2 linked regions of the Homo sapiens genome follow. The main gene of each other region encodes a partner of the protein of the gene in region 2 in a complex. Each region holds a gene or a part of one and is shown on either strand. Other genes may lie near its edges.

The links. Proteins that work in one complex are often made in the same cells at the same time.
Region 1: SNRNP200 (region 2) and CWC22 share a complex: the UniProt entries of both Homo sapiens proteins name them as parts of the minor spliceosome.

Annotation. Positions count from the first base shown.
Region 1 is NC_000002.12:180,000,764-180,004,416, forward strand, and holds part of CWC22 (pre-mRNA-splicing factor CWC22 homolog), read right to left. Parts: intron 1-3,653. UniProt on the Homo sapiens protein: Required for pre-mRNA splicing as component of the spliceosome. As a component of the minor spliceosome, involved in the splicing of U12-type introns in pre-mRNAs. Promotes exon-junction complex (EJC) assembly.
Region 2 is NC_000002.12:96,277,989-96,281,641, reverse strand, and holds part of SNRNP200 (U5 small nuclear ribonucleoprotein 200 kDa helicase), read left to right. Parts: intron 1-2,082; coding exon 2,083-2,191; intron 2,192-2,643; coding exon 2,644-2,833; intron 2,834-2,930; coding exon 2,931-3,095; intron 3,096-3,283; coding exon 3,284-3,405; intron 3,406-3,653. UniProt on the Homo sapiens protein: Catalyzes the ATP-dependent unwinding of U4/U6 RNA duplices, an essential step in the assembly of a catalytically active spliceosome. Plays a role in pre-mRNA splicing as a core component of precatalytic, catalytic and postcatalytic spliceosomal complexes.

The sequences.
Region 1 (3,653 bases), about 84 Mb from region 2:
GGAGAGTAGACAGCCCAAATTTTCAGACACTTTAAGACAGTAAGACACAGAGGAGTGAAAAAAAAAAAAGACATTTTAATGAACCCAGTGACACCATTATCTATACTGAAAACCTCACATTATAAATTGGGAGGTAGTATTACCCCCATTCATTTCCTGTATCATGAAGCTAGTCTATTTTAGGCTGTTTAAGTAACCAAATAAAGAGTTAAGTGATCCAATCATTTGGAAATACTATTAATTTTTTTACGCATAGGAAGATTCCCCAATGTGCTTCTTTTCAACAGAATGCAGGATCTATGAGAATAGAAATTTGTCTATTTTTGTTAGTTTCAACATTTCAATAAGCTGTCTCTTGATTTACAGTACAGTATTGATTTCTATTTAAGTTGGTTTTAAAGAAAAATTCTACATGTTGAACTTTTTAATGATTCATTTAAAAATAAATTATGATATTTATGGGGCAAATTCCCTTTATCCTGTCCCCTCTCTAGTTTTACTGTCTCATCCCTACACAGCTATTTTGTGATATGTAAGTTCACACTTGATGCCTCTAATTTTTTTTTCTTTTTTTTTTTTCTTGAGACAGAGTCTGACTGTCACCCAGGCTGGAGCGCAGTGGCATGATCTCAGCTCATCACAGCCTCCACCACCCAGGTTCAAGTGATTCTCATGCCTCAGCCTCCTCCTGAATAGCTGGGATTACAGGTGCGCACCACCATGCCCAGCTAATTTTGTGTATTTTTAGTAGAGATGGGGTTTCGCCATGTTGGCCAGGCTGGTCTCAAACTCCTGACCTCAAGTGATCTGCCCACCTGGGCCTCCCAAAGTGCTGGGATTCCAGGAGTGAGCCACCATGTCCAGCCTGATGTCTCTAATTCTTAACCTCTCCTACCCACTGTAATTCAGCTTTCCCTTCCCACTACTCCACAGCACTTACCAATGTTACACAGTAACTTTTTTTCTTGTTGCTAAATCCAGGGGCAGCTTCCTTCTTTTATGGGACATTGCTCTAGCATTTGGCACCTAATCCCCTTCTTGAAGTTCTCACTTGTCAACTTACAGGGACACCACCTTCATTTGTCCATCCCTTTAATATTTACTATGCCTGAGAGTTTAGTATTTGCTCATGAATTTATGTTTTGTTCATTGCTACATTCCCAACACTAGAGGCTCTCAATACATATTTGTTAAATGGATGAATGAATAGTCCTTATCTTTTCTTTCTCCATATTATCTGTGGAAGATCATCTCCATCCCCATAGCTTTAATTAACATGCGAAAACAACTTTTTACTCCAGCCAATCTTCTCTAGAGTTCCAAATCATGATGTCCAATTTGCTACAGGAAACCTCTAAGTGGATGTGCCAAAGGCCATCTGAACTAAAGAAATCCACAGTGGAACTAATTATTTCCTTCTCCCCATCTTAAACCAGCTCTTCTTCTAAGATATGACTTACAAAGCTTCCCAGGTGGCAATTTCCTTTTCCTTACTCCCTGTAAGTCACCAAATCCTACTGATTCTACCAAATCTGCCCATGTTTCCCCCTCATTCTGTCACTGTATATAGGAGGCTGGGGGAAGGTTCCATTTAGGCTAGGGCCATAATTGATATTTATATTCAGTGGCTGAGAAAAGCTGGGTGCAGTGGCATGTGCCTAGAGTCCCAGCCTGGGCAACATAGTGAGATCCCATCTCAAAACAATAGTAAAAGAAGATGAAAAAAGAAAAATGCTTACAGAGAAAATGAGGAAGTATGAAGCTAAGAGAAAAAGTACAGTCATGGTCTTTACTAAAGGCAGTGTCTATGTACGGTGGGGAGATATATACATTACACAACAGACAAGGCATTGAGGACTCTGTCCTTGGGTAAAGAAGAAATGTCTAAGTGCTACAACAATGTCATAAACAAGTGTTACTGGAAAAGAGGGTTTGGGACATACAGAAAGAAGTAGGTCTTGAAGCTGAGTCTTAAAGAACAAGTAGGAATTATCCATATCGAAAGGGGAAAAGGTCATTCAGGAAATACGATAAGCATGTGTAAAGACTCAGAGACAGAGAATTTGGGGATTCCAAGGTGTACATGAAAAACTGAACATGAATAAGATGGAACATGAGAGACTCATTAAGCTAAACTATGAAAGGCTCTGTATGAGTACACTGGATCCTCAAGGTTCTTGGTCACTGCTACATATCCAGAACCTAGGACAGTGTCTGCTACTTAATAAGTTCCAAGTCTAAAATTAAATAAAAAACGGGGAGTGTAGATTTCTGCTGATTACTCCAATTTCTGCCTACATAGAACTTCCTATAATGCCATTTTGTCAACTTGTTCATCAAGGAATACAACAGCAGCGTTGTCTCACCTATTAACTCCTACTTCTTGGAAATACTAAGATTTCCAAGTCTTAGTACATCAAGACAACACTATCAGATGCCACCCCCTATTAGTCTTCACTCCATGTTAACCTGTGGAACAGCTTGAAAACACTTCCTCATTGAGTGAGATGAAAAAAATACTAGTTCCTTTGCAGGCACTGCAAAAGGAAATCTGTCCCTGAAGGTGCAGTTCTTTTAACTTACAAAATCAACCCTAATTACTGAATATGCCATATGCCTTCATCACACATTCAAACCACTCTCTCCTGTCCCAAATCTGTTCCTCAGCTTGCCTAATTAAGTATATGGGTGAACACATTCTGCCAATTTTCAAGGCACAGCTTTGAAAGTCACCTGGTTATTTAATTAGAGAGCCACGTAGTAAACCACATTCTGGTTTAAAGAAAACTTGGAGGTGTTGGCCTCCACAGAGAAATTTAGCCCCTAGACATGCAAGCACTGCATTCTACTACAGAGGCTCCTGTAGCCAGGTCTAAAATAAAGCTATCCTGACAAACTATTTCAGGAAGGACTCACAGGGTAACTTTTCAGGTGGAAGTGCTGAACTCTGTCTAGCTCCACCCATTTATAAGTTAGGCTGAAAGACAGGTTAAACATGAGTCACCGAGTTCCTCCTCCCCACTAGCTAACCCATTCCACAGGAGTTAATATGTCCCAAGGCCAAGGCAGCCCATACCCCGTTTTTGGTATCTGTTCACTAGGAAAGACTTATTAACTTTATTATATAAAGGCTAGCTATAATCCATGCTTAAAGTTTGTACTTTGTTGTAGGTATTCAAATGTCTCTTCCAATGTCCACTTGGGAAATGTACATACTGAGAAAAAGTTTAAGTCTGGGAGTTTGCTGAAACTAGTATGCTCTCTGGCTTTATTGTTCCACCACCCTCCCATGCTCAGATAAACAGAAAAGTAGGGAAATTCGACAAGGGAGGCTTCAAAGTTATAAGAGGGATGCATGAATGTATTACCAATAGCCACTTCTTTCTCGGACTAGCTCCAGGCACCATGAACAAACCATGACCAAGTTAGGGATATGATGAGTAGTACAAAATTCCATTTAAATACAAGTGGACAATAAATTGAAAATATTATTCAAGTTAAGGCATGGGCATCTGAAATACAAAATGCATCACTGTGTTGTCTTTTGGGTGGTCTCAGGTACAAGCCACTGTAGGTCATTCAACAATGTGCAATCACTGGGAAGGAGAGTTAACTTCTTTTTTTCTTCTTCTTCTTTTTTTTTCTTGAGACAG
Region 2 (3,653 bases):
CATTTGCTTTTTAGTCATTGTGCTTCCTTATTCAGCAGCTGGGAGAGGTAGGAAATTAGAGCCAGGAGGAATGTTTGACGTTACGTCATTAATCTCAGACATCTTGTAGATTAGGAAAAGTGACTTGGTCGAGGTCATACACCTATATAGTGACAAGTAAGAAGCTAGAGGAGTGCCGAGCGCAGTGGCTCATGCCTGTAATCCCAGCACTTTGGGAGGCTGAGGCGGGCGGATCACTTGAGGTCAGGAGTTCAAGACCAGTGTGGCTAACATAGTGAAACCCCCGTCTCTACTAAAAATAACAAAAATTAGCTGAGTGTGGTGGCAGGCGCCTGTAATCCCAGCTACTTGGGAAGCTGAGGCAGGAGAATCAGTTAAACCTGGGAGGCAGAGGCTACAGTGAGCTGAGATCCCACCATTGCACTCTAGCCTGGGCAACAGAGTGAGACTCCAACTCAAAAAAAAAAAAAAAAAAAAAGCCTGGGTGTGGTGGCTCACACCTGTAATCCCAGCACTTTGGGAGGGCAAGGTGGGCAGATCACCTGATGTCAGGAGTTCAAGACCAGCCTGGCCAACATGACAAAACCCCGTCTCTACAAAAATTAGCCAGGTTTGATGGCAGGTGCCTGTTATTCAAGCCACTCACCTGTAATTCAAGCCACTTGGGAGGCTGAGGTTGGAGAATCACTTGAACCCAGGAGGCAGAGGTTGCAGTGAGCCAAGATCGCGCCATTGCACTCCAGTCTGGGCAACAGAGTGGTACCCCGTCTCAAAAAAAAAAAAAAAAAAAAAAGGGCCAGGTGTGGTGGCTCATGCCTGTAATCCCAGCACTTTGGGAGGCCAAGGCGGGTGGATCACAAGGTCAGGAGTTCGAGACCAGTCTGGCCAATGTGGTGAAACCCTGTTTCTACTAAATATACAAAAATTAGCCTGGTGTGGTGGCACGCGCCTGTAATCCCAGCTACCTGGGAGGCTGAGGCAGGAGAATCGCTGGAACCCAGGAGGCGGAGGTTGCAGTGAGCCGAGATAGCACCACTGCACTCCAGCCTGAGCAACAGAGCGAGACTCCATCTCAAAAAAAAAGAAGTTAGAAGAGTCAGTCATTCTCATAAAAAAGCCTGCATAATTTGTTGTTGTTTTTTTTTTAAGACAATCTTGTTCTGTCGTTTAGGCTGGAATGCGGTGGTATGATCTCAGCCCACTACAGCCTCTGCCTGCCAGGCTCAAGCAATCATCCTGCCTCAGTCTCCCAAGTAGCTGGGACTACCAGCATGTGCCACCACTCCCAGCTAATTTTTCCTTTTTTTTGTATAGATGGGTTTTCACCATGTTGCCCAGGCTGGTCTTGAATTCCTGAGCTCAAGTGATCCACCCACCTCAGCCTCCCAAAGTGCTGGGATTACAGGTGTGAGTTATAGTGCCTGGCCCAACGCTTAATAACTTTTTCCTGAAATGCAGATTAGTTTGAAATGAATTTTATTTACGGGTTCATTTTTAATGTTTGAACCTGCTTCTAGGTAGGGTTAAAGTTGGGTGACTTGATGACTCACGAAATACACAACTATGAAGTTTGGAAAGTGTGGTGGTATGCACCTGTAGTCCCACCTGCTCTGGAGGCTAAAGTGAGAGGATCACTTGAGCCTAGGAGGTAAAGGCTGCAGTGAGCCGTGGCTGTGCCACTGCACTCCAGTATGGACAGCAGAGCAAGACCCTGTATCAAAAAACAAATAAAAACAATAATAATTTTTTTTAATTAAAGGAGAAAAGTTTGGGAAGTTTGACTTACATATTTGATCCTCGAATAGGGAGTTATTTTGGTTTTGGCATTAGATAGTTTTGTAGCTTGGTTCATGGCACTTGAGCAGCAAATTCATGGCCCTTACACTGAATACTAAAATGTTATACAGGCCAGCCAGTGAAGCTAGTTGTAAGTGCAGAGATTCATAAACAGAGTCGTCCCGTGATTTGTCCGTGTCTCCCCGTATTAACATTTTACTCTTACTTGGCGAAGGGAGTTGGGCTTCCTGAGCATGGTCTCCGTGTTGAGGTGGCTTTTCCTTCTTTCCCTGCTTCTGTCACCAGCTATGTGGATTACCCCATCTATGACGTGCTTCAGATGGTGGGCCACGCCAACCGCCCTTTGCAGGACGATGAGGGGCGCTGTGTCATCATGTGTCAGGGCTCCAAGAAGGTCAGTCCTAGACTCATGGAGCCTCTTGGATCCGTAGCCTCAGAATGGATTCTTTAATCTTTCTTTTGATAGATGTCTTCAGTAACTTTAGTCTCTTAACTTCTGCCTCTCTTATTTACACAATTCTTTTGTGACGAGCCTGCCACCCACATGGAATTTTGCTGCCTTTTGCTTTTGCTGCTGCCGTTGGCTCCACGTGTTGAGGTCTTCACCCTCTACTTGGTTCTCTCCTTCCTCCTTGGGCTGCTCACTGCTCTGCCCTCGTGACTTGCTGTACCTCTGTTCCCACTGCGTATTGTCACCAGTGATGCACTTTCTAAATGTGTGGCTTCTTCCATTTTGGTATTAGTTAGGTCTCACACAGGGACCATGCCCTGTTGATTTGCCCTTGGCCCTCTGTGACCGTGTTGTCACTAATTCTTTATTACTCCTTCTCCCTCTCCAACCCACAGGATTTCTTCAAGAAGTTCTTATATGAGCCATTGCCAGTAGAATCTCACCTGGACCACTGTATGCATGACCACTTCAATGCTGAGATCGTCACCAAGACCATTGAGAACAAGCAGGATGCTGTGGACTACCTCACCTGGACCTTTCTGTACCGCCGCATGACACAGAACCCCAATTACTACAACCTGCAGGGTCAGTGGGCTTGGGAGCACACGTGATCCTTTGGTGGTTCTCACAGTCTTTGCTGGGCATCTTCTTGAGGCTCCCCACTCACCTCTCGCCTCCATAGGCATCTCCCATCGTCACTTGTCGGACCACTTGTCAGAGCTGGTGGAGCAGACCCTGAGTGACCTGGAGCAGTCCAAGTGCATCAGCATCGAGGACGAGATGGACGTGGCGCCTCTGAACCTAGGCATGATCGCCGCCTACTATTACATCAACTACACCACCATTGGTGAGGCCCGGCATGGCCCGTGTCCTGTCTGTGGGAGCCTTTTTACACGGGTCAGGAGCCCACTGGGATGAGAGGTGCGCCCGTGTTTGTCAGCGGGATGACACTGCAGGGGACAGCAGGGGAGCCCGGGCAGTTCTGCTCCTTCTCTGCCTGGTTTTAGCTTCTCTCACATTTCCTTTTTCTGTCAGAGCTCTTCAGCATGTCCCTCAATGCCAAGACCAAGGTGCGAGGGCTTATCGAGATCATCTCCAATGCAGCAGAGTATGAGAACATTCCCATCCGGCACCATGAAGACAATCTCCTGAGGCAGGTGAGGACAGCAGACTTCAGGAGAGCATCCTGGGAACAACAAACTCGGCCTGTGTGCCCAGAGCACATGGCATCCCTGCCACCAACACGCCCATACGCATCCCCCGACCCCCGCCATATGTCCTCCCGCTCCATACCTCCCTCAAACCCATCTCCATCCCATTACCACCCACATGCCTCAGGGTGTTGAAGGGCTGTGTGAGCCTGGGCCACGTGGTGCTTTGGCCTGAGCTGGTCTCAGGCAGGGTC